Linked DNA regions of Homo sapiens. The protein of the gene in region 1 purifies or fractionates together with the protein of each later gene. This does not show direct contact. Each region holds a gene or a part of one and is shown in the gene's direction. Other genes may lie near its edges.

Region 1 (3,500 bases):
AAGCCTTCATCCCAGCCAGAGGGGCGCTGTCCCCGACACAGGACCCTCCAACCTGTTGGGTGGGACAGAGGGAGCTGCCCTTCCCCCCAAACCTGGTCCAGAACCTCCCTATGGGAGGCAGCAGGAGGCCCAGGCACCCCCGCCCCAGGAGTGGCTCTGTCCATCCGGCGTCTTTCACACATTCTTTCTTTCTCTGTCTCTCCTCCTCTCCTCCCACATCCTTCCTGTAGAGCTACTTGGTAAGTCAAATGTCGGTCCCTCCAGCTGCTCCTCCCGTCCTTGTCGCATTTGTCTGTCTCCCCCAGCTCAGGGCCATTGGAAGGAACCTCTCCAGGCCAAGGAGAAGCGAGGAAGGCGGTCGGTCCACGAGGGAGGGGCCTGGGGCACAGTCCCCCTGGGGCCCCCGGGGTCCCTGGCCAGGGATGAGTCCCGGGCCACTGCTGGGTCAGTCTGCCAGGCCAGGAGGGGTTGGCCAGGGCGGGATGGGGGCCACAGGCCCTGGCTGCCCCGCCCCCACCAGGCTGGCCTGCGTCCTTACTTGTCACCTCCTCACCTGCCATCTCATCATCTCCTCTGCATCATCCTCTCGCCTCTCTCTTTCTTGCTGCTTCTTGTGTCGCTGTTGCTGTGTGCTCTGCTCCCTGAGCTGAGTGGGGACCCACACTGAGACCCCTTCCCTGCCTCCAAGGCCCAGCCCTAGCTCTCCTGGCCCCCGCCCCCTGTGGCCTGGCCTACAGCTGAGCCCCACACTCTCTCTTGTCCCGCTTCTGCCCCACCTCCCTGGACCTTGTGAGGTGAGGGGCGCCATCCCGGGTCAGTGAGGGTACCCCAGGTGGAGGCCAGCGAGTCTCCGTGTTGGCAGAGCTCCTGGGCGCCAAGAGCCTCCCCCGGAGATGCCCCAATCCAGCGTGGCTTTGCAGCTTTGGCCTCTTTCTTGTGTGTGTGTCTGTCCTCTCTGCCTGCTTTGGTGGGACTAGCCCTTCCACAAGCCCCAGAGTCCTCACTGCCCTCCGCAGTCCCCTGGCCCCAGGGCAACACCCAGCCCAACGGCCGAGAGATGCCACCACCAGGGTCTGAGCCCATTTGTGGGTGTGGCAAGCCAGGCTGGCATCCCCAGCAAGGCCTCTCCTCCCCACCCCTCCAGGGAAAGGAGACCTGCAGCCCCAGCTGGACAGTGCCCTGCAGGACGTCAACGACATGTACCTGCTGCTGGAGGAGACGGAGAAGCAGGCCGTGCGCCGGGCGCTGATCGAGGAGCGGGGCCGCTTCTGCACCTTCATCACCTTCCTGCAGCCTGTGGTGGTGGGACTCCTGGGGACTCAGACCCCAGAGGGGTGGGCTGGGCCCAGGGTTGACCTTCTGACCTCCAAGAAGGGTCACTTCTCAGCAGTCCCTGGCTGGGGGCATCAAGGCCACATGCTCCTGGCCCAAAGGCAGGTCTCATAGCTCACCATGCACTGATTTGGTCTGGAGAGACCATCATGCCAGCCCTCTGGGCTGTGTGGGCCCCACCTGCACCAGCCCCGAGCAGCATTGGTTAGCGAGGAGGGGTGAGAGAGGAGAGGCCCGACAAGGGCTGCTGCTTCTCCAGGGGCGCTGGGCAGGCGGGCAGGTGGGCGATAGGGCCAGCAGGTCTGACTCGCTGCTTCCTCAGAATGGAGAGCTGACCATGCTGGGAGAGATCACCCACCTGCAGGGCATCATCGACGACTTGGTGGTGCTGACAGCAGAACCCCACAAACTGCCTCCCGCCAGCGAGCAGGTGCGGGAGCCCTCTGGCCAAGGGCCAGGGCCAGGGGCAGGGAGGAGATGGGCTGCCCTAGGTTGGGAACAGTAAAGGGGAAAAGAGGATGGCATTTGGGGGAGGCAGCTAGGGGCATAAGACCAGACCCCTTCTGACACCCACTGCAGGCCATCCCGGAGCACCTGCCCAGGTCGGGGAGGGTATGCCCTGGCCAGCAGCGTTCTCAGACTCAGAGTAGATGGGTGAAGTCCTGGATCCATGGAGTCAGGCCCAGAGTCTGCCTGCCCTGCTCCATGTGGGCAGACCTCCTGCCGAACCTGGAGACGCCCCACCTCCCTTCATGGCCAGAAACCCCATCCCCTCCCCTAGACCCAGGCGTACCTGGCCACCCCACCCCAGCCCTGCTGCCACTGCACTCAGACCAGTCCTGTCCCACAGCCTGCGGGCAGCACGCTCCAGAGGCACTTGTTGCATGCCCAGCATCTGCCACGTTATCTCAGGGAATCTTCCACTCTAAGACAGGAACAGGAGTAAACAAACTCAGGGAGGCGCAGGAGCAACCTGCACCCCATGGTGTCAGGGTCACTCTCGCCCAGCCCAGGCTGGGCTCGGAATCTCTACTCAGTGCATGTTAGCTGAAGGGGCTCCGAGAAGGCTGTGTCCTCTGGTGTCTCCCTGCTCCCCACATTAGGAGGAGCCTGGGGGAGGGGGCTTCAGATTTCTGGGTCTTCTCCTGGGATGTGGTTCACAATTAGAGAGTGGGGGGGGGCCTCTGGCCCTACTAGCTCTGAGGAGCTGCCTCCAGTGACCCCCATCCATGTCCCTGTCCAGGTAATCAAAGACCTAAAGGGCTCGGACTACAGCTGGTCCTACCAGACCCCACCCTCATCACCCAGCAGCTCCAGCTCCCGGAAGTCCAGCATGTGCAGGTCAGTGGGGGTGGGGTTCCCAGGGGTGTGGGGGGCGGTATCCCAAGAGGAAGTGGGGATGTTCCCAGCAAAATTGCATCAGAAATTGCTTCAGGGCCTCAAAATTCACAACTTTTACACCATCCGAGGAATTTGCATATGTAGAGGGAAAATGTGCCCTGTCATCCCAAGACTGCTACTGGCACAGGCATTTGTTGGCAGAATAGGAAGCAGGGGCAGTAGCAGCTTCATTTATGGAGCATCCACTATGTGCCAGGTGCTGTGCTAAGTGCTTTATGCATTTTTTCTCATTGAATCCTAACACTGCTGTATCAGGAATGGTGTCATCTCCATTTTACAGAAGGGGAAACTGACACATGAAGTCCCAGCATTTAACCACTGGACTCTGCCAGGCCTAGCACCGTGTGGGGTCATAGTAAGAGTCAAAGATCAGGGAGAGATGGGAAGGCTTCTAGAAACAAGTGTTGGGGCCATAAGGTATAGGACACTCCAGCCTGGCTGGCTCCTAAGAGCTGGTTCCCATGGAGGCAGCTGCCGCATTTGGAGCCTTGGCCCAGGCTAGCCCCGGGAGCCTCACACAGCTGGGGAGAGGCCAAGGATCTCGCAGTCACTAGCCAGGCTCAGGATCAGGGGCCTTTCCTTGGCTGGGCACTGGGGCTGGGTTTGGAGGAGACATTGATGGTTCAAGCTTCCTTGGGTGGGGAGGACAGTAAGCACAGAGTGAAGTGCTGGTGGGGGCCCCCCTTTGCCAGGCACCCCTCTCCCCAGAATCACTGGCTGGACATCCAGAGCTTGGGAGAAGCCAGGCACAGCAATCAGCTACTACC
Region 2 (3,500 bases), on another chromosome or scaffold:
ACAAAAACTTGTGCATGAATGTTCATAACAGCACTGTTCACAATAGCCAGAAGGTGGAAACATCCCAAATGTTTATCAACAGATGAATGGATAAATAGAATATGTTATATTCATACAATTGAACATTACTCAGCCATAAAAAGAAGTGAAATACATGCTACAACATGAATGAACCATGAATACATTATGCTAAGTGAAAGAAGTGAAACACAGAAAGCCACATTCCGTATGACTCCATTTATGTGAGATATCCAGAATGAGCAAATCCATAGAGATAGAAAGCAGATTAATAGTTGCTAGGGGCTAGGGGGAGGGGTAAATGGGAAGTGACTACTTAATGGTACAGGGTTGCCATTTGGAGTGGTGAGAAAGTTCTGGAACCAGATAGTGGTGGTGGTTGTACAATATTGTGAATGTATTTAATACCACTGAATTGTACACTTTAAAATTGTTAAAATGGCAAATTTTATGTGTATTTTACTACAATAAAAATGGAAAATAAACTTTATACATATATTCTGTTCATAATAGCAATTTTAACTTATCAAAGAAGAAAATTTTTTAAATTAAAAACATATAATGAGAGAAATGTGAGTCATTTATAATTACACCATTCTGAGAATAACTACTGTTAACATTTTGGAATATTTCTTTCCATTATCTTTTATATATTATACTAAGACTTTTTAAAATTTTTTTTCCATTCTTTATCTGTCTTTGTATCAATAAATCTGAATATTTGGTTACATAACAGATCATATTGAATATGCAATCACTATTTAAAAGATTGTGGGGAAGTCTTTATGGTTTATCTTTGTATATAAGTAAATTATATTTTGAATTTCCTTTTTGAGAAGTCAGTCTATATTATGAAAGTATATGCTTCACGAGAATTTTCACACTAATAGGTACAACTTTTCTTCCAAGAAAAAATATCCTATTCACCATAAGTATGCAATTTTAACCTGAAATGTGAAGTCCTGTGTATGTTTATGCCACAGGGGAAAACAAGGAGATTATTACAGAATTTTAATACAGAATGTTAAAGTTGAAGATAGATAATGAGCATGTTTTATACAAACAGAAGCTTCTAACGTAGCACTTTTCTGGTGGAAGTACAGTTTGAGAATTGACCCCCACTGGTTAAGTGTGTTACTGCAGTGGAATTCCTAATTAAAGGGATGAAAATGCCCAGATTAAAGCAGGAAGAGGGCAAAGTCTAGAAGTCCCAAAGCATAGAGGTAGATATCTTCGCTACCAAGACAGATATCCCTGTGGTCATGAGGATGAGGAACGTGACCACGATCAGTGGTAATAGCCACCCAGTTTTCAGATGATCAGGAAACAAATGAATTGCCACGCGTCTGGCTACCATCTTACTGTCTTTTTCATGCAAGGTTTTTAACTCGGTCTATTTGGGAACTTTCTTCTGATAACATGTCTCTAATTTTATAATGGAAGTTAGTAGGAAAGTAGGATTTACTTTAGACCTTGTTTTAGGAGCTAGAGTGCTTCTGTTTGATAATGTGAGGGATGTTTGACAAATGGTTTTACAAATGGCTGTAACTAATTTCAAGTCAATATTGAATTGACAGACTAATCAATAATGCTTCCATATGTTCTATTTCCTCAGAATAGTAATTATAACATTTAAAATAAGTGTTTATGGGTAGCCTCTGAAGGAATCTGGGCAGTCATTAAAAATAACAGCCATCCACAAAAGGCAGTAAGGACAAATTAGAGCAGTGGCCCCACCCTTCCAAGAATAACTGATCATTGCCCACATCATGATGTACTTATTGTCCTAGTAGGTATGAGAAGGATGAAGAGTGAATAATTTGAGGAAAAATTTCATTAGCTGATAAATTGGAATGTCTACCTGCAAGGCTAAAATGGTTGTTAAATGAGGAAAATTGCTCCCCTAGATAAATCTGACATGATATGCTTTGTGTTTGAACACGGAAACTCATCACCATTGTTCTGTGTTCTTCAGTTGACATCATTTTCTTAATTCTGAATGACAGGGTGATTGACAGACATGGTGCTTTGTAAAGAAAGAAAAACTCATGCAGCATGTTGGAGCCTGCCAAAATGACATAGCCTGGAACTTGTAGAGTTAAACTGTTTGGGAGCCATGTTTCCTTTTTAAAAATCTGAAAGGATATAAAACCAGACATTACAATGGACTGGAGCTTGACTTGAGGGGTGATTCTATGTGTGTCACCTCATAGGTGCTCATTTTCAGGATGATATAAATGAATAAACTTTTTGTTTGTAGAAGAATTCGTATAGCAAGTATGTTACCAGTGATTTTGTGGAAGCTAATGTAGCAATTTGCTGACAGAAGTCAAAATATTTTCTAAATTGTAATCAAGCGTCTTTTACTTCTGTGCTTTAGAGACAAGATCACTTGAAGGCATGAAGTAAAAATATTCTCTGTATTCTAAAGTAACTCCTTAGATCAGATTTCAAAAGATTAATGACATTTTCACAAACCATTAGTCACTTTCTCCTATATCTGGCTACCTGGATCACTGGTATCTCACTTTTTCTATACAGCTGTCACCTGGGCAATACATTGTGGTCCCAAGACAGACTGTTCCATTGGAGCACACAATACGTACATGGAATCAACCCATGCTGGGTGGGGCTGGCCAGCACAGTTATTGTATGATGCCAAAAATCTGTCCCTGGACTATAAAGCTATACCTCAGGCCCCTGATCTCACTCTGTCCCTAAAGTACCAAAGCATCTGTCATTGTATTTGAGCCTCGTTGGACTCCTGGTACTCAGAAAGCTGTGTTTCACTTTAAAAGCAACCTCCAAGGCACACCTCTTGAGTGATCACAGCTCAATTCTGACGTGTTCAGTTGCAGTTAATAATAGGGTGCTTTTGTAACAACCTTCGTGAGAGTAAACAGATGAGATGAATAAATTGGCTACTGTCATTATCTCCCACATATTTTAGAAGTTAATGTTCTTTTCACCCTCACTCCCCCCTTAAAGGTTTACATTTTTTAGCTCCTCTTAATGTGCCATTGAAAACAGAGTTCCCATTCATACACAGATGGTAAGCATGACTCATGAAGTCACCCAGCGAAATGACTTCTGGTTGTATATGTTATGTTTCCCCTCTTGGTTAGTTTTTCCCAACTATGATATACATCATGTTTTTTCTCTCTTCTAACTTAAAAAATATGAGCTTCATATATCCAGGAAAATGCTTTTCACAGTACATATTTTCCCAGGGACGTTGAGTTTTTTTATAAGATGTCACTATCATTAAGATTAGTCCTTTCTTGATGCTCTACTTTAAATGTTTTTTTTTTTTTTAAGTGCCGTGGAGTGTTGGGAAAGGAAGGCTTCAGGCTTCCTGGCCATCTAGAAAGAGTTTGCTGTGCATCAACAAGTCAATGTATAAGAAGCCTAGTGGGGAAGCAAGCTGTACAAAGTAAAGTAACTTCTTAGAAGGTGATTTAATGCATACAAATTTCCATTAG
Region 3 (3,320 bases), on another chromosome or scaffold:
ACTCTTAGTAATCCCAAACCCCAGAAGCAGTCTCATTTCCCGGAAACATTGGGGCCACCTTCAGCCTCATCTCCAGAGTCACCAGTTCTAGCTGCTTCCCCAGAACCTTGGGGACCATCCCCAGCTGCATCTCCAGAATCTCGGAAGTCAGCCCGGACTACCTCCCCTGAGCCAAGGAAGCCATCCCCTTCAGAGTCTCCTGAACCTTGGAAGCCGTTCCCTGCTGTCTCCCCAGAGCCTAGGAGACCAGCCCCCGCTGTGTCACCAGGCTCTTGGAAACCAGGGCCACCTGGGTCCCCTAGGCCTTGGAAATCCAATCCTTCAGCATCATCAGGACCTTGGAAGCCAGCTAAACCTGCTCCATCTGTGTCTCCTGGACCTTGGAAACCAATTCCTTCTGTATCTCCTGGACCTTGGAAACCAACTCCATCTGTGTCTTCTGCATCCTGGAAATCTTCATCAGTCTCACCCAGCTCCTGGAAGTCTCCCCCTGCATCTCCTGAGTCATGGAAGTCTGGCCCACCAGAACTCCGAAAGACAGCTCCCACGTTGTCTCCTGAACATTGGAAGGCAGTTCCCCCAGTGTCTCCAGAGCTTCGCAAACCCGGCCCACCACTATCCCCAGAGATCCGTAGTCCAGCAGGATCTCCAGAGCTCAGAAAACCCTCAGGGTCACCAGATCTTTGGAAGCTTTCTCCTGATCAGCGGAAAACTTCTCCTGCTTCACTTGATTTCCCTGAGTCCCAGAAAAGTTCCCGTGGTGGTTCTCCTGATCTCTGGAAGTCTTCCTTTTTTATTGAGCCTCAGAAACCTGTCTTCCCTGAGACCCGAAAACCAGGTCCTTCTGGGCCATCTGAGTCCCCCAAAGCAGCCTCAGATATCTGGAAGCCTGTTCTCTCTATCGATACTGAGCCTAGAAAACCTGCCCTGTTTCCCGAGCCTGCCAAAACAGCCCCTCCTGCTTCTCCAGAAGCACGCAAACGTGCCCTTTTTCCAGAGCCCCGGAAGCATGCCCTTTTCCCTGAACTCCCCAAATCTGCTCTATTCTCAGAATCACAGAAGGCTGTTGAGCTTGGTGATGAACTACAAATAGATGCCATAGATGATCAAAAATGTGATATTTTGGTTCAGGAAGAACTTCTAGCTTCACCTAAGAAACTCTTAGAAGATACTTTATTTCCTTCCTCAAAGAAGCTCAAGAAAGACAACCAAGAGAGCTCAGACGCTGAGCTTAGTAGTAGTGAGTACATAAAAACAGATTTGGATGCGATGGATATTAAGGGCCAGGAATCAAGCAGTGATCAAGAGCAGGTTGATGTGGAATCCATTGATTTTAGCAAAGAGAACAAAATGGACATGACTAGTCCAGAGCAGTCTAGAAATGTGCTACAGTTTACTGAAGAAAAAGAAGCTTTTATCTCTGAAGAGGAGATTGCAAAATACATGAAGCGTGGAAAAGGAAAGTATTATTGCAAAATTTGTTGCTGTCGTGCTATGAAAAAAGGTGCTGTTTTGCATCATTTGGTTAATAAGCATAATGTTCATAGCCCTTACAAATGCACAATCTGTGGAAAGGCTTTTCTTTTGGAATCTCTCCTTAAAAATCATGTAGCAGCCCATGGGCAAAGTTTACTTAAATGTCCACGTTGTAATTTTGAATCAAATTTCCCAAGAGGTTTTAAGAAACATTTAACTCATTGTCAAAGCCGGCATAATGAAGAGGCAAATAAAAAGCTAATGGAAGCTCTTGAACCGCCACTGGAGGAGCAGCAAATTTGATAACACAGTGTGAATATTTGTTCTACAAAGGTGTTTGTTGGAACCATTCTTTGTAAGTATAGCTTATCAGATAGCATAGTTGGATCAGTAGATGACATGTATGGTGTACCGTGTTTCACTGTCTCAGTTGTGTTACTAAGAATGAGCATTTGATCATTTTTTTCTGGTCTCTGTCTATGTGACTATCTTGTAAGTCAATAAATTTCTGTATAGTCCAGATGGATTAAACTTCTCATTTCTTTTAAATATGTATGAATAATAATACAAGGAAGTAGGCATTCCATTTAATAATCAAGAGCAAGTTGTACTCAAAGCATTCAGTTAAAGTGTATCTGTGTGTGGAACTAATTTCAGACAATAGAAAATATTAGTTGAAATGTTTAAGAATTAGGCATGAAAAATAAATTTGAGAAATTTTGTTTCCTTACATGTATTTTTAAATCATAAGAGTTATTTTCTATCTGATGTAAAATTAGTTTATAAATCTTAATCAGCTTCTAGATGTTTATTAGCTTTTATGTCATGAAATGTTGGAGTCTCAGGGTTGCTGATTTTCTGCTAATGGGAAAAATTGACTAAGTCTTTAAAATAGTTTGCAGCCTTCTCCCACAGGAGACAAGTGAAAGATAAGTGTGATTTTAGATCTTTCTTGTCCATAGTTGTTTTCAGTGGAGTCTTCCATTCTGTATCTTACCCTAAGATCTGGTTCTTCCCTCCCCATCCCCACCCCCCACCCACCGCCTGCCAGCTCACACTAATAGATGATTCTTAATTGCCAAATGTGTTAGAGTTTGTATATCCTACTCCTGGGCCTTACATGTCGCCTGTTGGGGCTTAAGACCAGGTTGATAAGTAGGAACTGAAAGTCTTCCAGATTCACAGTAGAAAATTTTATAGACATTTCTGTTAAAGAAATATATCGATTTTATGTTTTTCAATTATGTTACTGTAAATACCTTGTACCTGTTCATGGATTATTTTATTCTAAAATATTTTGTCAAATGTGTATCAACCAAATTAAAAAGAAAGGTTTTCATGTCAGCAACATCTTCATGTGTGTTTTCTTTTGTGTAGTTTTCATTGTATGATATACAGATCCATTATTTCCATGTTTTCAACATAGTTTTCTTATCTGGAGCAGCATTTTCTTAGCTGTGTTTTCTCCAAGTTCTGTGGTCAAGTAAGTTAGGGGAATGCGTGTATAGGGAGGACTCTGTGTCAAAAACCTCATCCTTTCATATGAAAGGTTTTTTAATTCCAGTGGTTGCCTATCCTGCCTGCCTCTAAACAGTGTGAGGCATTTAATCTCAAAGCATTCTGATGTGTAGCCAGGATTGAGATGCTGTACTGGGTTTATTTTAGCTATTCCCAGACATTTTTTTAACAAGGAACAGTTTTGTCCTAGTTCCCCACCCGCTGGCTTCCCTATTAATATGCCCGTTGGGATAGCTTAACAATATTTAGTAATATGGTTTGGCTCTGTGTCCACACTCAAATCTCTCTCTTTTTATTTTTGTTTTTTATTTTGAGACCGATCCTTG
Region 4 (3,500 bases), on another chromosome or scaffold:
TGGACATATATTTGGAAACTCTTTTTGACTGCTGAACTATTTCAGCATTTTAATTGTCAGCAATAAATTCGCTATGTTTGAACTATTTGATACTTTCCTTAAATTTCCCAGTCTTGTGCTTTTGAATAAATAAACTCCATAAAGACAGGGTTCTGGTCATATTTTCCCTACTTGACAGGTAGATATTAGGAATATATAAACATTTGATAAATGTTTCGTATGGATGAATTAACTATCCCATTTTCAATTTTTAGTCTAAATATTTAGACTGTATTTTTTCATATATTGAGTTCTACCTAGCTTTGAGGGATCAGGTGCAACATCTGACTTAGGTATACTGCTCCTGGAACCCAACTACTGAACTTACATCTACAGCCATATCCTTTTTTGATGGGCCTCATAATTAATAATGCTCTATGAAAAACACCTGATTAAAGGTTTCTGCAGTGTTCTTATTTATAGGATGAAGTATTCTAAACAGTAAGGATTAAATCATCAATTAATTTGGGGAAATTCTGGTTTCTGTCTTCATACATACAGACACATGCATCACAGTAATACCAACAACTTTAACTTTTGTATGCACACTGCTTCTACTTTTCCACACAGCAACTGTGATGTGGGCATGACACAGCTACCTTTGTATTATAGATAAGTAAGTGGAGACTCAAATTGAGTAACTGAACAAATAGGACTTGAAGTTGGATATCATTTTAAAATCTTGCTGCCTAACGAAGGGCAATTGATTTTTGTTAATTCTCTACCTGATGCTCTTGTAATTTAATTAGGACATTCAGCTTTCTACCGCTAATGCTACCTAATTCAGTTAAGGGAAGAATGCTGCTTAGTATTTTGTAATTTCTATTAGAACAGCTGCAGTTTTGTAAGGGGTTCTTTTGCCAAAAATCCATTAGAATGTGAGTGTTAATAATATTTCTTAGAAGTAGTTTAGAAAAGTTTTTTGTTTTGTTGTTTCTTGGATCTCTTATGAAGAGTAGGTTTTAAATTTGCCTCCTTGATCCTTCATCATAGCTACATTTTGCATTTGTGCCAATGTTTGTGATGGTTCCAAAGGAATTACTTATTTTTGTCAAAAACAGGATGAGGTACTAAATCATAATGAGAATACTCAACCTATTTCATTTCCATTGTGATTTCTTGTTTGCATTTTAAAACTTTATTTTCTGTAGTAAGTTCAGGCAAGACTTGTTTGGGCAGTAATCAGAAGAATAGCAGCAAGATACAGGGGGACTCTAGAATTTTGCTAGGGGTAATGGTGGGGGAAAATATATTTTCCCCTTCCAGTTAAAGCTTCAGTATTATTTATAAATAATCTCCTCCCAAAACAGCATGAGTGGGGATGTTTTCGAGACTTTTCTGAACACATTTTAGGCATTTTTCTAACTGTTTAACTGTTTTTCTAACTGTTTAAAATAGAAGTACAATGACTCTTATGAGATTGTCTTGAACCATTATAGAACAGGGTAATTGTGCTATTCTTCAGAAGTGGAAGAAATTATTTCTGTGGTATGATATTTTGTAATATGCCTTTGTTGTCAGTAATTATCTCTAGAATTTTGTAGTTAATTATAGAGTAATGTTTCAAAGAATGCATATGTCTTGATTGGCCTAGAACAGTCAATTGACATTTTAATATGCTTTTATACAACTGCACATTAAATTAGGTCATAATTATTTTTAAACAGGATGGTGAAGTGGATGCTGAAGAACTTCAGAGATGTTTGACACAGTCTGGAATTAATGGAACTTACTCTCGTGAGATCTTTTTTCCCCTTTTGTTGAAATTATAATAGGAAGTTTATTTTCTTACTTTTTTTGTCCCTGTAATTAAAATGTTTAAAAAATTATCACAGTTATACATGCACATAGTTTAAGGAGTCAAATAACTGTAAAACTCGTTATGAAAATAACTGTTCATTGTGTATTCCTGTCTCCTTAACATTAACTGCTCATAGAGGACACTTCTTTTGACTTTTAAAAATCTGATTCTTTTGAAATTTGCTTCCAGATTTCAAGATAGAATATTTTTTTCACGATTGATTTTTGGATTTTATGATTATCTATTGATATCCTGCTATGAAAGATGAGGATTTCACTTTATTTTAACCTTAAACTCTCCCCTGTCTCTGCACTCCACAGAGGAACATTTCCCATCCTCCTGTCCTTCCAATGTAGTTATAATATATAGTAACTTTTGTTAGGTATGTTAGTCTTTACCTTATTTTTACTATCTGAATGCTGCTTATAGCTGTATCTTATGATAATGTATGATTACTTTTCCTTTTTATATAATGTTTTGCTTTTCTTGAAATCACTAGTTGTCAGGTATTATCCTAGAACTCTGGGATATGCAGTTTTTTATGTGTAGCTGTCATACTGGGATTCTTTCACCATCATTCTGAAGCTGGTTTCCCCGTTTCTCTTGAGTTAGATCTCCTTTTTACTCCATCTCTTGTTGTCCTCTTTTAAAAAATTCATTATCTTATTTTAGTGAAATGTATAGTTAAGCAGCTTCTTAATATAAAAAAAAAATACGGCCAGGCGCCGTGGCTCATGCCTGCAATCCCAGCACTTTGGGAGGCTGAGGTGGGCGAATCATGAGGTTAAGAGATCGAGAGCACCCTGGCCACCATGGTGAAACCCCGTCTCTACTAAAAATACAAAAATTAACTGGGCGTGGTGGCACGCACCTGTAGTCCCAGCTACTCGGGAGACTGAGGCAGGAGAATTACTTGAACCCAGGAGGCAGAGGTTCCAGTGAGCTGAGATTGGGCCACTGCACTCCAGCCTGGTGACAGAGTGAGACATCATCTCAAAAACAAACAAAAGAATATATGGGAGATAAATTTTTGAGAGCTTATGTATCTAAAAATGCTTTCATTCTACCTTCAGAATTGATTGGCCAGGTATAGAATTCTAGGTTACAAATGATTCTCAAGTAGAATTTTAAAGGTATTGCTCCATTGTTTCTAGCGTCCCTTGTTGCATTATCTTTCTCTTTCCTGCCTGGATGTGATGTGATTTGTTATTCCTCTCTGGAAACTTGTGAGATCTTTGTCTTTAGTATTCTGCGATTTGATGGTAAAGTACCTAGTTGTGTTGTGTGGGGAACTCAGATGGTATTCTCAGCCTGGAAACTCCTTTGCTTTAGATGTAGGACGTTTTCTTCAATGATATTTTCTGTTTCTTGGAATGCTTTTTGTTTTCACTGGGTTTTCTACTTTTATCATCTTTTTCCTCCTATCATTTTTTTTTGCTGAACTTTTTGGGAATTTTCCTCAACTTTATTTCCTAAACCTTCTATTGAGTCTTTCATTTCTGCTTTTCATTAATATCCAAGAGCTTCTGTTCTATTTTCATGAATGTGATATTGTCCCTTATCTCTCTGAGACTATTAATATATTTTTAAAGTTTTTTCTTCCTATATAACCTTTGTTTTTTCCAGATTGTTTTTTCTCCTCATTTTGCTTGTTTTGGTT
Region 5 (4,018 bases), on another chromosome or scaffold:
CAGGGTGGGCGGGGTGGGGGGGTTCCGCCTGTGCTGGCTCATACAGGGAATCCGGGTTGGGGGTTGGTCTGTGCCAGCTCTGTCTTCCTGGGCATGGGCTGGGCCAGAGCTAAGGTCTCCTGAGAGCCAGCACTGCCTGGCAGGAGACTGTCCCGGAGACTTTTTAATAATTTATTATTATTAGGGTTTTTTTGTGTTTTTTTTTTTTGTTTTTTTTTTTAAGACGGAGTCTTGCTCTGTCGCCCAGGCTGGAGTGCAGTGGCGCGATCTCGACTTACTACAACCTCCGCCTCCTGGCTTCAAGTGATCCTCCCACCTCAGCCTCCTCAGTAGCTGGAATTACAGGCATGTGCCCCCATGCCCGGCTAATTTTTGTATTTTTAGTAGAGACGGAGTTTCGCCATGTTAGCCAAGCTGGTCTGGAACTCCTGACCTCAAGTGATCCGCCCGCCTCGGCCTTCCAAAGTGCTGGGATTGCAGGCGTGAGCCACTCGGATTTTTATTTTTATTTATTTATTTATTTTTAGAGAGAGGCTCTTGCTCTGCTGCCCAGGCTGGAGCGTCATGTTGTGATGATAACTCACTGCAGCTTCGACCTCTTGGGCTCAACGGATCCTCCCCCTTCGGCCTCAGCCTCCCAAGTAGCTAGAACTCCAGGTGCAAGCTACCGCACCCAGTAAGAATCCTATTCTCTTTTGGACTGACAAACTCCTACTCATCCAACAAAGCCCCAGCTCCAATGGCCCCTTCTCTGAGGAACCTGCCCTGGTTCCCTGGTCCACCTCCCAGCTAGTAGAGTTCCCTGGGAAGGGGTTAGACGCCTCTAAGTGGCAGAGAGGGGCCCTCATTCCTGCCCCAAAGGTAGCCTTCTCCCCTCCCCTTTCTGGCAGAAGAGAAGTCTGAGATGGAGAAAGAGTGAGAGCCGCCCACGAGCTCTGAGCAGAGAGCCCGCAGGAGTGCCACGTCCCGGCGGCCTCGGCCCCTCCCTGCCTCAGTTTCCCGTGGCATCAAAGGGGGCGAGGGGCCCCTCCAGGCCTCTGGTGACGGGGGTGCTGTGCCCAGGCGGGGGTCCGGGGGCGACCGAGGGGGCTCAGGAAGTCCGCGGCCGCAGGAATTCGGCGCCTCCAGGCCTTATAAGGACATTTGCGCTCCGGGCCAATCAGCGGCGGGGGCGTGGCGCGCGGAGCCCGGCGCGTCCCAACCCCGCGCCAGCCCGGCGGTCCCGTCCCGTCCCGTCCTGTGCGGCCCCGTCCCGCCGCCCGCCCGCCAGCCATGAGCTCCACGCAGTTCAACAAGGGCCCCTCGTACGGGCTGTCGGCCGAGGTCAAGAACCGGGTGAGTGAGGGGCGCCCCTTGTCCCCCCGACAGCGCGGCCGTCGCACGCTCCGACCGGTGCAGGAGCCCCCAGGCGCCCCCGGCACCTCCCGGGCAGGGAGCTTGGAGACCCGGGGCGGACGGGCCCTTGTTCTCCCTGACGCCTGGTGGGGGGATGTCTGCGGGCACCCCCTGAGGCTCCCGCGAATCTTGGGGAGCACCCAGGTCTGAGATCTGGGGGACGAGTGACCCATTCCCCCCCCCAACATCTAGGGGTAGTTGGGTCTGACTTCGTCCCCTCGCCATGGCCCCAGGACCCCCACGTGTGAAGCCCCTGGCGCCCACTCAACCTTCGAGAAGGTCCGTTCAAGGTCCGACAACGCTCTGGGGGTCTGGGGGGGACCCCAGCAACCCCGTCATCTCCTGGCCACACTTCTGCTTTTGGGGCCTCTTAGCTTTGGGAGGGGAAGGGGCATGGCCGAGTGGTTTTTGAGAAGTGTTACCCCCCCACAAACAGGAATTTCCTGGCCTCTGGGACACCTTGGGGGTGTCTTGGGGGGAGGGGCGGTAGCCGCTTTGCACGGTCTTTGTCTCCCATCTGACTAATTTAAACGGATAACAAAGAGGTTCTCTGAAGGTGGCCCTGAGATATGTGGGGTTTTGCAGCCTCGAAAGAAGAGCTGGGGCCCGGCAGGGCGCGGGGGCTCACGCCCGTAATCCCAGCACTTTGGGGGGCGGAGCTGGGTGGATGGCTTGAGCCCAGCGAGTTCGAGACCAGTCTGGGCAACATGGCGAAACCCCATCTCTATAATTAAAAACAAGCCAGGGCTAGGGGAGACACTTTTTAAGAGAGCACTTGTGGTTCTAGCTCAGAGAGGACCAGACACTTCTGCAGGGTCACACAGCAGGGTCCTGGACAGGATTCCCAGGGAAAGTGGGGGGCGGGGGTTGTGATGCGAGACCCACGGACAGGACCGGGACCTGACCCTCCAGGACCTTCCAGCTGGAGGGGGGTGTCGTCCCCGCCCACCCCCTCCCCCGACGCCCACTGGGCACCTGGGAAGGTGTCCTTACAGCTGACTTCTGCAGGGGAAACTGCCTCTGCACGCTCTGAGGGCACCGGCCCTGCCAGCCCCAACAGCCACCTGCCCGGCGGCACTCCAGGGCCGGCAGACTGGAGGGAGAATTCCTGCTTCCCCGCTGTGAGCCCCTGCAAGCCTTCAGACCAGCTCTTGGCCAAAAAGGGAGGCTGAGGCTTGGGGTGGTCAAGGCCTGAGCCAGGGTCCCCAGCCCGGGGCTCACGACTCCTCCTTCAAGGGGCCATCTGCACCCTGCATTCATAGAGCCCCCCGTGCAGTGGGGTGGGCACCCTGCCGCACCCTGCATACAGCCGGCTAAGGGCACCGGTGTCCACAGGGACCCAGAGACGTCGTTCCAGCTGCCCAGGGCCACACAGCCCACAAGTGACAGGGCCAAGACCGGAACCCAGTACCTGCTGGGCCTGCGGAAGTGGGAGCGGGCACAGGAGGGTGGGGCGGCTTCCGGAGACGGGGTGGGGTGGGGTGGGGGCAGGTTGATACCTGCCCTGGCGGGGGTGAGGACAGAGGCTGGAAGAGCCGCTTAGCAGGCTCCCCGCGCAACCCTCAGTCTGTCCGTTTGGAGGGTGGGCGAGGCGTCGGCCAGCTTGCCAGGGTCACGGAAGGGTCGCCTCCCAATTAGAAACCAGCTTCCCCCTGGCTTCCCGCTCACACCCGCTTTACCGGCTGCTTGAAACAGCCAGAGACCCGCCCCCCGCCCCGCTTCCCCGTGGCTCAGTTGACTCCCGGCTGGACGGCACGGAGGCAGCTCGGATCCACAGTGTCTGCGGCCTTGCATCCCGGCTTGGGGGTCCGGACCCGCTGGGAACAGCTGGTTCAGATTTAGCCGGGGAGGCAGCGCGCATTCCTGGCAGTTTGTGGTGAACAGGAATGTGCTGGAAGGCCGGCGGCCGGGCAGCGGGGGGGCGGGGGTGGGGGAGGACGGCAGCGGCTGGGGGTGGGGCCAGGGGACCTGGGCCCCTGAGCCGGCAGAGACGCGGCGCAGCTGGGCAAGGCAGGGCTGTGTACCCAGCAGCCACCGTTCTCATTCCTCGGGATCAAAGTTGCCGGCGGGGCGGGGCTGCCCCCGGGCGTGGAAAGCCAAGCTGGGTGGGCTGTGAGCTGGTACTGGGGGGCCTCCCCGCCTTTGCCTCCTCTGGGCTACGAGCTGTTTCCAGGCAGGTGCCAGGTCAGGGGACCCTAACCCAAATAATCCCAGGCAGGTCCAGGTCAGGGGACCCTATCCCAAATAATCCCAGGCAGGTCCAGCTCAGGGGACCCTAACCCAAATCATCCCAGGCAGGTCCAGCTCAGGGGACCCTAACCCAAATCATCCCAGGCAGGTCCAGCTCAGGGGACCCTAACCCAAATCATCCCAGGCAGGTCCAGCTCAGGGGACCCTACCCAAATCATTCCAGGCAGATCTAGCTCAGGGGACCCTAACCCAAATCATCCCAGGCAGGTCCAGCTCAGGGGACCCTAACCCAAATCATCCCAGGCAGGTCCAGCTCAGGGGACCCTAACCCAAATCATCCCAGGCAGGTCCAGGTCAGGGGACCCTACCCAAATCATCCCAGGCAGGTCTAGCTCAGGGGACCCTAACCCAAATCATCCCAGGCAGGTCCAGC
Region 6 (3,500 bases), on another chromosome or scaffold:
GCCCTCTACCCCTTTTAATCTGGCTAGTCTCAATATTTAAGTCTCTGCTTGGGCATGTTTTCTAGAAAAGCCATCCCTGACATGCTTTATTTTAATTGTTTTTAAACCCTAATGCCTAGCATGTATTTAGCAGGACTCAATAAGAAATTTCTGAGTAAAATGTGAGTAAGATGATGTGCAAGACTGTCCTCTGCAGTCTTGGAGCAGACGGGACAGACATGTGGAGGAATAATGTAGAGTTCAGGTGGTAAAGATGCAGTAGAAAAATCAGTGAAGTACTAAGGCAGCCTCAAGGAAGGAGGTACCTGTTTATCTGGGGAAAGACATGCAGAATCAAGGAAGACGTTCTCATAGCATTGTTTTAAAAGATAAAAATAAGGATAAGTGTGGTGGCTCACACCTCTAATCCCAGCATTTTGGGAGGCTGGAGCAGGCAGATCACAAGGTCAAAAGATCAGGACCATCATGGCCAATGGTGAAACCCCGTCTCTACTAAAAACACGAAAATTAGCAGGGCATGATGGTGCATGCCTGTAATCCCAGCTTCTCCGGAGACTGAGACAGGAGAATCGCTTGAACCAGGGAGTGTCAGAGGTTGCAGTGAGCTGAGATTGCGCCACTGCACTCCAGCCTGGTGACAGAGCAAGACCCTGGCTCAAAAAAAAAAAAAGAAAGAAAAATGAAAATAAATATGTCTGAATCGTGGAGGGAAACATTTTAGATATTGGGAAGAGATTGTACACTAATAAAGGTGTCAGTAGTAATTTTTGAAATCATTTGTAAGGTACTATTGTTGCAGAAAACAGGAGGCAGGAGAGACCAAGTGGGTGAAACAGGAGGATTTCATTTAGGTTCGCACCAGCTCAGCGGATTTGCATCCGAAAGCTGAGCCCTGAACAAAGACAGGGCTTGGCTTATGTAGGCAAGCTTACAGAAGCAGAACAAAGGCAGTTAATCATATAGTGACAGTTTTGCAACCTCAGCGTAGCTTATGACCTTGCAGCTGCATTGAAGGACAACAGGAACTTGCAAATAATATGCATTTGTAAAAACAGCTCTGAGTGAATGCTGAGGGGAAGGGGAGACAGTAAAGGATTTTGTTTTCTTAACCTTGCTGTGGGATGTCTGGAGCCCATACCTGTGGGCTCTGGCTTCTCAGGCAGGGTCACCATGACCTTTCCTGGGCCCTGCTTGTTACTATCCTTAGAGTCAGACTAGCTAAGTGCGGGAAAACTTGTTTCTCTTTAAAACTAAATTTCCTTTTCTTTACATTTACTGCTTCACTATTAGGAAGTGGAGAACAACATACTGTGTTACCTTATATGTTTCTACTGTATTTTAAAGTTGTGTTTCTGGTGGTTTTGTTCATTTATGTTGGGTGGATGAATTTGTGAGTGAATGACATCAGGTGTCTCCCCAAGTGGTTTGTTGAAGTTTGGGAGAATTATTTCCTAAATAACTATTTCATGAAAAACTAAACACTCAATTTATGAAATAAAATGTTGTCTTAAATCTATTTTTATAAAGGCAATAGTTTTTAACTGTTCTAAGTGGTTCATTTTAACTGAATATATGGATTTCTCAACAGAACAAGACTTAAAGCTGACATCAGAGGAAGAGTCACAAAGGTTCAAAGGCAGTGAAAATAGCCAGCCAGAGGCATGGGAAATTTTAAATTTAAATTTTTGATTTAATGTTGTTTTCTTTGCTTTAATAATATTAGATAGTCCAAATGAAATTACCTTTCAGACTAGGTTTTGAGAATCAATAGATTTTTTAAAGAATTTTTTAATAGATTGTTAAAATTTATTTTAATAAATTCAGTAATCTCATTAACAGAAGAATGGATTCTAATTTAACATTTGATATTTAACTTAAAAAACATAACCACTATAAAATTTAAAATACTCTTATTTTATAATATTTTTATTTAAAATATTCTCATCTGCCTTTTTGATTAGCTTATAGCTAATCTTTCCTTTTGGAATAGAGGCAAAAACAAATTTCAGAACTTTGTTCTTTTATTTTTACAACACCCGAACATGATGAAGAAGGTACATCAATTATTGGATTATGTTATTAAGCAATAGAATTATGAACAATGTAACTCTGATGGTCCCTGAGCTGGATTCATGGTTAAGGAGTAATCATGGCCAGTGATTGAAAATCTGCAGTTTTATATTGTCAGTCACTGATACCAAGGTTAAAAATATATTCTGCCTTATGGTCTCTCATTGACCTCAGCGTTTCTGTTCAGGGAGGGAACCAGGTCATAAAAGCAACACAGCTGCCTATTACAAGAATCATATCTTGCAGAATGGAACCTTTGGTGTTAGTGCACAAACACAATAACATTCTAATTTATTTCAGTTGCAGAAAATTAGTACATATTATTAAAAAAATCTTTATCCACTGTAATTAGTACACATTAGAATATATTAGAACTGGACTTAAGCAGATAATCTGGATACATAACACTATCATATGACAGTATATAATCTCAATTAAAATTTGAGAAATTGCATCTCTTTCTGTTTGGTGTTGATTTCGGCTCCTAATAATTTAAATGGTGCCTACAATCCAGTTAGGAATCTTTTAGAAAAGCACTTCAGTGCACTGTAGGGGCTCACTAGTTAGGGTTTCATGAGGTAAACTCTTTTCAAGTGAGGAAGATTTTGGAACACTACAAATCATCTGCTGATTCATTTTTGGTAGATTTAACACATAACAAGTTTAGTCCAAACAAATGGTGACCAAGTTAAGTTTGCTGGTTCACGTTTTTTTTCTTCGTTGGGCTAAGGTGAATTATTTTTCACATGTTAGTCAGAAGCCAGTAATGTGGCAGTAGCTAAACATAGATTAAAAAGTTAATTCTTAATTTTAATTATTATTTATTTAACAGTTAAATTTTAATTTTAATTATTTTCTAATTTTTCATCGTCCATACTTCATTAGTTAAGAATAAAATTTTTTTAAAACATGCGCTCCAAAAGAGGAGACATCACAGAAACACAACAAGCAAATTAACCTTCTGTTTTTGCCTCTGCAGAAAATGTCTCAAGAACCAGAAATAAATAAGGATGGTGATAGAGAGGTATACCTTCATATTCAAATGTTTCTGTTGAATTAGATTTTTACATTATGTTGTTTAACAAAATGTAGTAAGTGTAGGCATACATGATCCTATCATGTAAGTAGCATAAATCATGAGTGAAAAAGTTAATATTTAACTCAGAAAGAATTCTGTACTTTGAGTTTTCAAGAGATACAAAGCCTAGAGATATTCTTTGATTATTATGGAACAATCCTGAATGGTGCCATAAAATGCTAGGTAATGCCACTTTAGGAGCTTTGGACCAATCATTTTATCTTTCTTGGTTTTAGTCTGATTATCAATAGATAATGTGGCTAAAGAAGATAGCTTCTTATTCTGTGTATCTTCCAGCTAGAAAATTGTATGGCTATTCAATGTGAAATTTGGGGAGCATCTCATTTTCTGG
Region 7 (3,089 bases), on another chromosome or scaffold:
TTTCTCCTCTGTGCTGGGAAATTTTTTAGAGACTGGCATGTTTGAAACGATTGTAAGTGGCTTTACCAGTTTGTCCTGACAGATGTCATTTGGGTTTTTTCCCCCAGTGTGACACCATTGTCCCATTCTCTGAGTAGAAACTTGGAAAAATTAGTGATAATGCATAGTATGTTCATCACAGTGCTCATTTCTCCCCCTCAAAAATTGGGCTTATGAGTGTTTCTGTTTCCAAGGATGCTTGTGTGGTGAGCCCAGCAGATCTTTTTGTTGCTTCTCATTGCCATCCGCTTTCTCTTTGCTGGATTGATTGGGCTGGGATTAAGTCTGTCAAATAGTCACTGAAAGCTGACCCCTCAGGGAGCCTCGGGCACACTGTCAGTGTTGTGGCTGTACCATATGGATGGGGTTTGTCTGTAGCGCCCCGTCTCCTGGCTTTGTTAAGTTAGTGCCTGACGCACATGTTGGATCTTGTTTAACAGACACCCTGTAGACCTTGAATCTGCAGAAAGCAGCTCCGAGCCCCAGACCAGCTCTCAGGATGACTTTGTAAGTACTTTGGATAAGTCTTTCAGCTTGGGGGTTGCAGGTGAATTGTTAATAACACATGCTGCCTTATAAACTGAAGTTTGGACTGGGCACGGTGGCTCACGCCTGTAATCCCAGCACCTTGGGAGGCCAAGGCAGGCGGATCACCTGAAGTCAGGAATTCAAGACTAGCCTGGCCAACATGGTGAAACCCTGTTTCTACAAAAATACAAATAATAGCCAGGTATGATGGTGGGTGCCTGTAGTCCGTGCTACTCAGGAGGCTGAGGTGGGAGAATAGCTTGAACCCAGGAGGTGGAGGTTGCAGTGAGCTGAGATGGCGCCATTGCACTCCAGCCTGGGCAACAGAGCAAGACTCTGTCTCAAAAAAAAAAAAAGAAAGAAAACCATGTGCTGCGCGTGGTGGCTCACGCCTGTGATCCCAGCACTTTGGGAGGCTGAGGCAGGCAGATCACCTGAAGTCAGGAGTTCAAGACCAGCCTGCCCAACATAGTGAAACCCAGTCTCTACTAAAAATACAAAAACTAGCTGGGTGTGGTCATGCAGGCATGTAATCCCAGCTACTCAGGAGGCTGAGGCAGGAGAATCACTTGAACCCGGGAGGCAGAGGTGGCAATGAGCCGAAATTGTACCACTGCCCTCCACCCTGTGTGACAGAGTGAGACTCTGTCTCAAGAGAAAAGAAAACCGTTTTTAAATGTATCAGTTTAAATACTGTCTCCTGTCCTGAGACAGCCACTATTTGTGGTTTTGTCTAGGCTTTTACAATTCTTTCTGTGCTTATAAACTATGTACATGGCCAGGCACAGTGACTAGTGACTCCTTCCTGTAATCCCAGCACAATGGGATGTGTGCACATCTAAACGTCAGTGTCTTGTAAATGGTACATGTGGTTTCTCTTTGCAGTGTTATTATTAAAATCTGTCTCAGTTGCACGTGAAGTGTACACCTTGCTGTGCATTACATCACATGATTTACCACATAAGGAGTGGGGTGTAGGAAGGGGCCCCTGTTTTCAGGGTGAGATGAATGTCAACCGAGCCATGCTTCTGTTTTCCAGGATGTGTACTCTGGCACACCCACCAAGGTGAGACACATGGACAGTCAAGTGGAGGATGAGTTTGATTTGGAAGCTTGTTTAACTGAACCCTTGAGAGACTTCTCAGCCATGAGCTAACTGCCCCCTGGCGGCCAGGAAGAGAAACAGCTCCTCCCCGACTAGGTGGAAGGCTGGCCAGGCACCAAGCATGTGTGTGCACTTGTACCTGGTGGTTTCTCTGTTAGCAGTCCATTAGCTCATGCTGAATTATTTTTGCCTTACTTTCTTAAGAAACATTAATTTTATGTATAGTGAGTATATTTTGCATGTTTTAAATTGTAAATGGAGCTAAGTCCAAGAAAGTACTTGAAGCTCTCTTCCAGCGAGCTTAATTGCGTAATCCCTGTTGTCCTCCAGGGTAAGCTGACACGTCTACATAACTGGTTTTCCACAGGCATCTTCAGTTATTGCTTGTCAGGTGGACTGTTTTGGATTTAACCATGTAATCCATGGGACCAATTGAGAGTCAGCTACTTTTATAGGCATCAAAGTATTCTCAGACACCTTTAATATCTTTATGGAAACTTAATTTTTGGCCTTTTATCAATATGTCATAACAGCATTCTGAAGTCAGACATTGTTAAATTGAGCTATTAAACTAATGAGTTTTATGTAAGTTATATGGTCTTAATTTGGTACTTGTAAATAGCACTAGTTAGACTCTTTAGAATACTCCAAGAGTTAGGGCAGCAGAGTGGAGCGATTTAGAAAGAACATTTTAAAACAATCAGTTAATTTACCATGTAAAATTGCTGTAAATGATAATGTGTACAGATTTTCTGTTCAAATATTCAATTGTAAACTTCTTGTTAAGACTGTTACGTTTCTATTGCTTTTGTATGGGATATTGCAAAAATAAAAAGGAAAGAACCCTCTTTCACTGACTGGGGCTGTTGCCAGGTGGGCCAGCTGCCGTGAGAGCTGACATGTTTGGAGGGTCAGAATTGTGTCTGCCTTTCTTGTGTCTGAAGCAAGTGGCACTCAGTGAGTGGCGCTGGGTAAAGGGCCTTCTTTATTTTTTTAATTTTATTTTTTGAGAGTTTCGCTCTTGTTGCCCAGGCTGGAGTGCAATGGTGCAATCATGGCCCACTACAACCTCTGTCTCCCGGGTTCAAGCGATTCTTCTGCCTCAGCCTCCCAAGTAGCTGAAATTACAGGTATGTGCCACCACACGCAGCTAATTTTGTATTTTTAGTAGAGACAGGATTTCTCCATGCTGGTCAGGCTGGTCTCGATCTCCCGACCTCAAGTGATCTGCCTGCCTCGGCCTCCCAACGTGCTGGGATTACAGGTTTGAGCCACTGCGTGTGGCCGGGGGCCTTCTTTAATAGGTGTCACATGTCACATTTGGTCTGATGCTTATTCATCAGCACTGGCATGACAGCCTTCCCTGTCTCTTGGGAGAGACCCTGCAGCAGGATAATCATCAGTCTGAGGGTGCCCT

The links.
Region 2: the proteins of MTSS2 (region 1) and AMMECR1 purify together in Homo sapiens (affinity purification with mass spectrometry; one large-scale study listed by BioGRID and IntAct). This does not show direct contact.
Region 3: the proteins of MTSS2 (region 1) and CHAMP1 purify together in Homo sapiens (affinity purification with mass spectrometry; one large-scale study listed by BioGRID and IntAct). This does not show direct contact.
Region 4: the proteins of MTSS2 (region 1) and GCA purify together in Homo sapiens (affinity purification with mass spectrometry; one large-scale study listed by BioGRID and IntAct). This does not show direct contact.
Region 5: the proteins of MTSS2 (region 1) and CNN2 purify together in Homo sapiens (affinity purification with mass spectrometry; one large-scale study listed by BioGRID and IntAct). This does not show direct contact.
Region 6: the proteins of MTSS2 (region 1) and POTEI purify together in Homo sapiens (affinity purification with mass spectrometry; one large-scale study listed by BioGRID and IntAct). This does not show direct contact.
Region 7: the proteins of MTSS2 (region 1) and SLBP purify together in Homo sapiens (affinity purification with mass spectrometry; one large-scale study listed by BioGRID and IntAct). This does not show direct contact.

The regions. Positions count from the first base shown.
Region 1 is NC_000016.10:70,676,054-70,679,553, reverse strand, and holds part of MTSS2 (protein MTSS 2), read left to right. Parts: intron 1-230; coding exon 231-239; intron 240-311; exon of another isoform or gene 312-422; coding exon of another isoform or gene 423-444; intron 445-1,144; coding exon 1,145-1,302; intron 1,303-1,654; coding exon 1,655-1,762; intron 1,763-2,575; coding exon 2,576-2,673; intron 2,674-3,500. UniProt on the Homo sapiens protein: Involved in plasma membrane dynamics. Potentiated PDGF-mediated formation of membrane ruffles and lamellipodia in fibroblasts, acting via RAC1 activation. May function in actin bundling.
Region 2 is NC_000023.11:110,210,086-110,213,585, reverse strand, and holds part of AMMECR1 (nuclear protein AMMECR1), read left to right. Parts: intron 1-3,500.
Region 3 is NC_000013.11:114,324,503-114,327,822, forward strand, and holds the end of CHAMP1 (chromosome alignment-maintaining phosphoprotein 1), read left to right. Parts: coding exon 1-1,779; 3' UTR 1,780-2,820; downstream 2,821-3,320. UniProt on the Homo sapiens protein: Required for proper alignment of chromosomes at metaphase and their accurate segregation during mitosis. Involved in the maintenance of spindle microtubules attachment to the kinetochore during sister chromatid biorientation.
Region 4 is NC_000002.12:162,350,632-162,354,131, forward strand, and holds part of GCA (grancalcin), read left to right. Parts: intron 1-1,706; coding exon 1,707-1,776; intron 1,777-2,780; exon of another isoform or gene 2,781-3,102; intron 3,103-3,500. UniProt on the Homo sapiens protein: Calcium-binding protein that may play a role in the adhesion of neutrophils to fibronectin. May play a role in the formation of focal adhesions.
Region 5 is NC_000019.10:1,025,390-1,029,407, forward strand, and holds the start of CNN2 (calponin-2), read left to right. Parts: upstream 1-1,218; 5' UTR 1,219-1,272; coding exon 1,273-1,335; intron 1,336-4,018. UniProt on the Homo sapiens protein: Thin filament-associated protein that is implicated in the regulation and modulation of smooth muscle contraction. It is capable of binding to actin, calmodulin and tropomyosin. The interaction of calponin with actin inhibits the actomyosin Mg-ATPase activity.
Region 6 is NC_000002.12:130,488,829-130,492,328, reverse strand, and holds part of POTEI (POTE ankyrin domain family member I), read left to right. Parts: intron 1-1,588; coding exon 1,589-1,659; intron 1,660-3,049; coding exon 3,050-3,094; intron 3,095-3,500.
Region 7 is NC_000004.12:1,692,231-1,695,319, reverse strand, and holds the end of SLBP (histone RNA hairpin-binding protein), read left to right. Parts: intron 1-479; coding exon 480-546; intron 547-1,606; coding exon 1,607-1,723; 3' UTR 1,724-2,589; downstream 2,590-3,089. UniProt on the Homo sapiens protein: RNA-binding protein involved in the histone pre-mRNA processing.